Linked DNA regions of Homo sapiens. The gene in region 2 interacts genetically with the main gene of each other region. Each region holds a gene or a part of one and is shown on either strand. Other genes may lie near its edges. The genes, in order: FGFR2 and MAP3K1.

Region 1 (3,824 bases), on a different chromosome or scaffold from region 2:
ACTGGTTTTGTCAGTATATCATAATAGAAATATTCTACTGTGTTTCTAGAATGCTATCAAGGATGCCAAAGCAAGATCAGACCTTTTTGTTGAGGGATAAACATAGAGAGTAGACCCTGTGGAGGTCCCCAGCCTGGACCACATCTCACTCAGCTCCACTCTTTAAGGACAAATCTGGGTTAGAGGGAAATATGACAAACTACTCGTAAGTGGGAAAAGCTCCAGGATTACTCCTTTAATGGAGTGAAGAACATGCCAAGAGCTTGGCGAATTAGATAACCGCTTTGTAGTTGCACATCCATGAATATGTTCAAGGGAAGGACTTCCGCTCTGGCAGGGGGAGGTCAGCAGTTCCACCTTCTGTGCTCTTTGAAGCCAGGCAGATTAGTAACAGAGCATTGGTTATCAGCCTACCATAAAATCTGTCCTTTCTAAGGCCAGCTCCTGCACCTTCTACGAATGTGTGAAATGCAGCAGCCACTAAAGAAGGAAGAAAGGTGAAGTACGTACAGTATTTTTGCAGCTCAAGCCCAGGAAAAAGCCAGAGAAAAGAGAGTTACTCACACATCACTCTGATGAGTGTATACTCTATCAAACAGGGCTTCTGGAGCCATCCACTTGACTGGAAGCCGCCCCTGCAAATGTAGAGGAAAATGCAAAAACTAAATATATTTAAAAGAATTTATCTTAGCAGGCTCAATAGGGCTATGCCCTGTTTAAGAGCTGATATTCTCGGTTTTTACTAGTCAGTCAATAGAGCAGAAATCAGTCCCAATGAGGACCATGAACAATGTGTGAGATGCACAGGTCTGGGCCGTTAATAAAATGCCATCTCCTTGGATTCTATCCTTTATCTCCCTAGCACACAGATGCTCCTTGACCAGTTATTAGGCAAAAATTAAACCAGTAACTTCCAAGCTGTAGTTTTTGCTATGAAAGTTCTTGATGAGAACCATAAGAAAATCCTAGCGGTTGCTGATTATTCTGTATATAAGTGTTTCACATTTACTAAAATTGACATAATAGAGGCTAAATTTGCATATTGAGAGTTTGTGAATAGTAAGTCAAAAGAACGGGAATCGGGGCAGGGGAATGGGTCCCCAGCCATCCCACCCAGCTCTCAACATTGACGGCCTTTCTTCCTGGAACATTCTGAGCCTCACCCCCGCCCCTGCCCACTGTGTTACTGCCATCGACTTACATTGGTGGTCTTTTTGTAATAGTCTATATTGTTGATATCTCTGGCGAGTCCAAAGTCTGCTATTTTCATCACATTGTTTTCTGTTACCAAAACATTTCTGGCTGCTAAATCTCGATGAATACACTGAAATCAAGAAAGAAGCAAGAGAAATAACTAATTTCAAAACACCGCCAGAACAAAAAGGAAATATGTTCATTTCTTAAAATGCAGATAGAAAATATAGCTGATGTTAAAAACCAGTTGCGGTATACTATAAGAAATACAGTGTGGCCGGGTGCGGTGGCTCATGCCTGTAATACCAGCACTTTGGGAGGTCAAGGTGGGCGGATCACTTGAGGTCAGTAGTTCGAGACCAGCCTGGCCAACACGGCAAAATCCCATCTCTGCTAAAACTACAAAAATTAGCCGAGCGTGGTGGTGTGCACCTGTAGTCCCAGCTACTCAGGAGGCTGAGGCACAAGAATCACTTGAACCTGGGAGACAGAGGTTGCAGTGAGCTGAGATCACGCCATTGCACTCCAGCCTGGGTGACAGAGTGAGACTCTGTCTCAAAAAAAAAAAAAAAAAAAGAAAGAAAAGAAAAGAAAACGCAGTGTGGCTCTAAGATTAAGAAGACAGGTCAACTGGGATCATCGGAGAGCCTGGATCACGACATGTATTTGTTTTGGAATTATAAATAAATAGAATGATCATTTTGAAGAGCGAAGGTAGACTAAATAACCATATTCTCTTCTACCTCCAGTTGTCCAGCCACACCAGTGTCTTTCTTTCAGCTGCTTATAGATCTGTATCTGATCATCCTAAAATCTTTTCTCTCAACACTTGCTCTCCTGCCCTTTAAACCTGAATTTTCAGAAGCGTTGGTTAAAATCCAACATTGTGTCTTCTTCATTCCTGGTCACTTCTCAAACATTCTAATCTGTGTTCCACTCTTGCCTCTCCTGAAGCTTATGAAGAACCTCTGAATTGTTAGACGCAAATGACGTCCTCCAACTCCTCAGTTGTTCCTCCTCTGTGGCTTCAGATGCTATTGATTTCTTGCTTGTTTTTTAAAATGGTCCCTCTGTTTAGGTTTTCTTGTTTTTGTTTTTTTTGTTTTAACATGGAGTCTTGTCCTTGTCGCCCAGGCTGGAGTGCAATGGTGCGATCTTGGCTCACCGCAACCTCCGCCTCCTGGGTTCAAGCGATTCTCCTGCCTCAGCCTCCCGAGTAGCTGAGACTACAGGTGCCTGCCACCACACCCGGCTAATATTTTGTATTTTTAGTAGAGACGGGGTTTCACCATGTCGGTCAGGCTGGTCTCGAACTCCTGACCTCAGGTGAGCCATCCGCCTCGGCCTCCCAAAGTGCTAGGATTACAGGTGTAAGCCACCACACCCAGCCCCTCTGTTTAGTTTTATCCCGTCCCCTTCCCTCAGCTGCCTCTCTGTCTCTCCCTGCCCTCTTAGAATCTCTGGCTGGCTCTTCTCTTTTTCTGTCCCTTCAAATAGAGGAATTGTTCCATTAAGTTTATGTATTTCCATATATCCTCAAGGCATTAATTCTAAACACATACAAAATATGCGCAAGTTCGTATCTCCATCATGACCTCCCTCCTGAGACCCATGTTCTCATTTTCAACTGTCTATGGGACACTTCCCCACTGACATTCCCTTGACGTCTCAAATTCAAGGTTTCAACTCCTCCAATGCTTTGTCTCTCTTAATCGGAGAGCTATACACCGGTATTCTTTACACATTCCTCCCAAGTCCTGTTGATTTCAACTCCAAAATGCCTTCCCATGTGTCCACACCATGCCTTTCCCACTGCTAATGCCTTAGTCCAGGCCATCTTCACTGTCTGCCCCTCCCCCTGAGACTTCCACACTGCCCGTCTAGCGGGTCTCTACGCTTCCAAACTTAGCCCTGTTGTACCTCCTCCATGTCCCATGACTAAGGTTCCTGAAATGACTAGTCATGTCCTTTCTTGGTCTCTACCATGGCCAATGCCCGTCTATCCACGTTCTCAGTCCAGTTTCTCCTAACACCTGGCCTCAGCCTGAATGTGCCACATACACTGATTCTAAACACTGAAATATTAAATACTTGCTGCAGAACAGCTAATTTATTGTCTTGACACTAACTCTTGGGTCTCAGAAAGATCTAGCTATTACGACTTTTCCTTCTTTTTTTTTTTTTTTTTTTTTTTTTTGAGACGGAGTTTCACTCTTGTTTCCCAGGCTAGAGTGCAGTGGCACGATCTTGGCTCAATGCAACCTCTGCCTCCCAGGTTCAAGTGATTCTCCTGCCCTCAGCCTCCCAAGTAGCTGGGATTGCAGGTGCCCACCACCACATCAGGCTAATTTTGTATTTTTGGTAGAGATAGGGTTTCACCATGTTGGTCAGGCTGGTCTCAAACTCCTGACCTCAAGTGATCCACCCGCCTCGGCCTCCCAAAGTACTGGGATTATAGGCGTGAGCCACCACGCCCGGCCTATGATTTTTCCTTTCTACAAATGATACGCTACTGTGAGCTGCTGCATTTTTGTTACACTTTCATATAGCAAGATTTCCACAAGATACAAGGTAATTAGGGTCTCCAATCATCACCTTCTATTTTGGGAAGAGATAAGACACAAAGAAGC
Region 2 (3,824 bases):
AAATAATACTCGTATTTAAATAGAAGATTTTAAGTTTGTCCCTCTTTTTCAGGGTGATAGCTGAAATCAGTGAAAGTGCCTGTAAGTGGCGCCCAAGGGTTTGGAATTTTTCCTTATATTACAGAATTTAGGGGCTTTTTCTTCCTATTTACTGTCTTTGAAGAAAAATTACAGTGTTACTCTCCATTGAACAGCCTATTGTGAGTTTGGTAGATATAATTACCCCATCCTATTTTTGTAACTTAAAAAACCAAACTATCAATTTGCTGGCCCCGTGAAAGAACAAGATATGCTGTACTTGTTAATGTTAGTTTTTGTTTAAAACTAAAGGTATTTCACAGGCTGCTTTTATATCCTCATATAGCCCTCAGATTTCACTTCCTTTTTAAAGCTATTAGGCTAAAAATATGATTTAGTGACCTTTTACTAAAGAGGAGGTATAAGAGCATTATTACCTAAAAATTACTCTTAAAATATTAAGTGGGTGACTTTATAAAAATAAAGGTAGTCACATAAGTTAGTCTTCCGTGAATTTGTAAGTTTTTAGTTAAGAATGGTGTCAGTTTCATTTTAAATCAGATAAGAAAATTAATGCATTCTTCAAAGATGAACCTTAATATAATTCTGGAAGAGAAATATAAGAGCTAGAATTGTTGCCAACTTTTATTTTCTTTTCATATCTGATTTTGGCAAGAGTGACTGGTTAACCAACATTCCTTAATATACGATTTCCAATGCACTAAAACTCCATTTTGTTAGATACGAAAAACAGGAAGTAGCCCTGTTCATTGATATTCATTTACAACTTCCATAGCACCTCGAGCATAATATGTTGCATATTTTAGAAATGGCCACTGACTTGTCAACTTGCAGATTTCAAAATGTGGGAAGAAAGGAGTGTTTTTTTGCTTTCAACAAGAGCAAAAAAAAAACCAGCTACAGCTTGCCTAGGCTGAGTCGGCTAATCAGTCCTTGACACTGGCTGTGTGCATCCCAAAGGAAGAAATGAGGGGGTGGCAAGGTAGTTAATGGGGAATGGATTACCATGAGGAAAAATATGGGGCATTCAGAAATGCTCTCAGGTAGAAAGCACCTCTTTTGCATTTTGTACTCCAGTCATCTTCTTGGGTTGAGGGCTGTCTGTTACACAGAAGGCGATGGGAAAATGTGTCATGGAAAAGTAGTAGTCTCTAGAGGCTGCTTAGGAACTGCGTGTATATTACACCTCTAATCTTGGAATTCTTTGCTTCTATCAAATATATCAAGTATAGACTTGGTTGTTTTCCTTAGTCCTTGCCTCTTTCTATATCCTAAGTTAAAAGCTAAAGCAACTTAAACATGTAAATGGTAGACTATTAATGTGAGGAAATGTGTAAGATTAGGAGTAACCCAAAGTTGTCTTTAAGAAATTATTTAAGAACATGTTTAATCATGAAAGAAATAATCAGGGCCGGAATTAGTAAATGGTTCATTGCAAAGCATGAGATTAGTCAGATACTCTTTTCAGTTTGCAAAAATATATTAGGATTTTATCTGTGGCTTAAAACATACTCATTGAGCATATAGATATGCCTAGATACCTTTTACATAATCAACTCTTTTGCCTTCTGTGTGTGTGTATGATATCTATTATATGTATTATATATATGTTTATATATAATCTCATTTGATCATCACTGCAGCCCCCTAAGATAGTGTAATTTCTGTTTTCTGTAGGTGCAAACTCATCTGAGATGGTAAAACCTCATGATTACACAACTAGAAGACAGCTAGGATTCAATCCCAAGTCAGACTGACTCCACAGTCCATTTCTTTCCACTACTCTGCTTCTTCCATTTTCTTTTTTCAAATTAATAATCAAATTAATTGATTATTTTTAAGGAGAAATTTGTTTTGCAGGCATTCTAATAGACCATGAGCTAGGTCTCTACCCTGTGCTAAGTTTGCCTGTTAATGTATATAATAGGTATGTTTCTGTAACCTGGCCTTGTATATGTAATACAAGTAAACTGTATTTGGATCACCCTATCATGTCAGCCAAAGAGGGTTAGTCATTAGTGTTGAATGTTTCTTAGATTTATTGATTTGTGCTGTATTAAATCATAAGTGAAAGGAGATAAGCTGAAATTAATATGGTTCATTCATGGTAATCACACAGGAAGAGAAACTTTTACTATTGCTAGACCCTACCCCTTTGTTATTGTTTTAGATTTCATCCATTCAACATTTATGAACTTCTGCAAGGTGGTGGTCTTGAGTGGTGGAGAAAAAGATCATGAGTGCACAAGCTGTTTCTGTCGGTAGGTTGTAGTATGAACATGTTTCACAATACCGTGTTAAGTGCTATAAGAGAGATGGGGATACAGAGGGGATACAACATATTAGTTTCAAACTATTTCTGCCTATTTTCTGATAAGAATATATACAACACTGCATGTTCAGGCATGTTTTTTTTTCTTCCAAGGGAAAATTAAAAAGGAGATACGGGGAGCAAGAAATTCAACATCTGCTACTGCTAGTTCTGAAATTCTGTCTTTATTATTAGTAACAGCAACTCTACTAGTTACGAAAACAACATGGAGAAATATAAAATATTCTTTAGGGCATAAGATGATCAAGAAGATAGCCTTGTCTTTATTTACTCTATGGCATGTCATTGGTGATTGAGTTATGTTTGGTATGGAAGGGAGTTCTGTATTGTTAGTGATTGAGTCCTTTGGAATACCAGGCTGGTTTGATGCAGATGTTAATTTGATCGAGATGTGGAGATGTTGTAGCATACTAAGGGGAATTGTTAAAACTCACCAAGTGTATAATTCTGCAAGTACACATCTGTCACCTGGGAATTACTAAGCCACCAGACCTCTTGAAGCCTGGAGAAAGTGCTTGGAGCCACATGGGACAGCCTACACAGTACTGTAGTTAGTACGTTAACTAAGTTCATCACTTGTAAGCATAATGATGGATAGACATGGAGTGAGAACAGGGTCAGTACTGGGGTGTAGGTGGAAGCTTTGCTCTTGACAGATGTTATCATTACTTTTCTTTTTTTATTTTTAAATTAGAAATGGGTTCTCACTATGTTGCCCAGGCTGGAATCGAACTCCTGGGCTCAGGTGATCTTTCCACATAGCTGGAACTATGGGTGCAAGCCACTGTGTCTGGCTTTACTTTTCTTCATTGCCTAAACAATAATTTAAGTTATATGTTAACACATAATCTTCAAACTGGTCTTATGGTATTCTGAATACTAAACATCAGTTGTTAACAGACCAGGAACTTTATCTGATTCTTTGCACCATCTCCCAGCATCTAGACTAGTGTCTGGCACCCATGAATATTAGGTACCCAGAAATGTTAACATGAATTAATTTTCCAAAAGTGGTTAAATTAGTATATCTGAAGATTAACTTACTGTAGTGAGATTTTAATCATGATCTAGCTTAAGACGAGTTTTGAAGGCAAGAACTGTCTTTTTTTAGGAGTTTTTGTATATCGTTTGGTATTTATTTATTTATTTTTGAGACGGAGTCTTGCTCTGTTGCCCAGGCTGGAGTGCAGTGGCGCAATCTTTGCTCACTGCAGCCTCTGCCTCCTAGGTTCAAGCAATTCTCCTGCCTAGCCTCCCGAGTAGCTTGCTGGGATTACAGGCATGCCCCACTATGCCCAGTTAATTTTTGTATTTTTTTGTAGAGACAGGGTTTCACCATGTTGGCCAGGCTGGTCTTGAACTCCTGACCTCAAGTGATCCACCCACCTTGGCCTCCCAAAGTGCTGGGATTACAGAAATGAGCCACTGCGGCCAGACCATTGCTTGATGTTTA

The links.
Region 1: changes in MAP3K1 (region 2) and FGFR2 together harm fitness more than expected from each alone (negative genetic interaction), as found in Homo sapiens cells (one large-scale study listed by BioGRID).

The regions. Positions count from the first base shown.
Region 1 is NC_000010.11:121,486,790-121,490,613, forward strand, and holds part of FGFR2 (fibroblast growth factor receptor 2 isoform 1 precursor), read right to left. Parts: intron 1,325-3,824; coding exon 1,202-1,324; intron 636-1,201; coding exon 565-635; intron 1-564. UniProt on the Homo sapiens protein: Tyrosine-protein kinase that acts as a cell-surface receptor for fibroblast growth factors and plays an essential role in the regulation of cell proliferation, differentiation, migration and apoptosis, and in the regulation of embryonic development.
Region 2 is NC_000005.10:56,818,517-56,822,340, forward strand, and holds part of MAP3K1 (mitogen-activated protein kinase kinase kinase 1), read left to right. Parts: intron 1-1,716; exon of another isoform or gene 1,717-2,229; coding exon of another isoform or gene 2,230-2,300; intron 2,301-3,824. UniProt on the Homo sapiens protein: Component of a protein kinase signal transduction cascade. Activates the ERK and JNK kinase pathways by phosphorylation of MAP2K1 and MAP2K4. May phosphorylate the MAPK8/JNK1 kinase.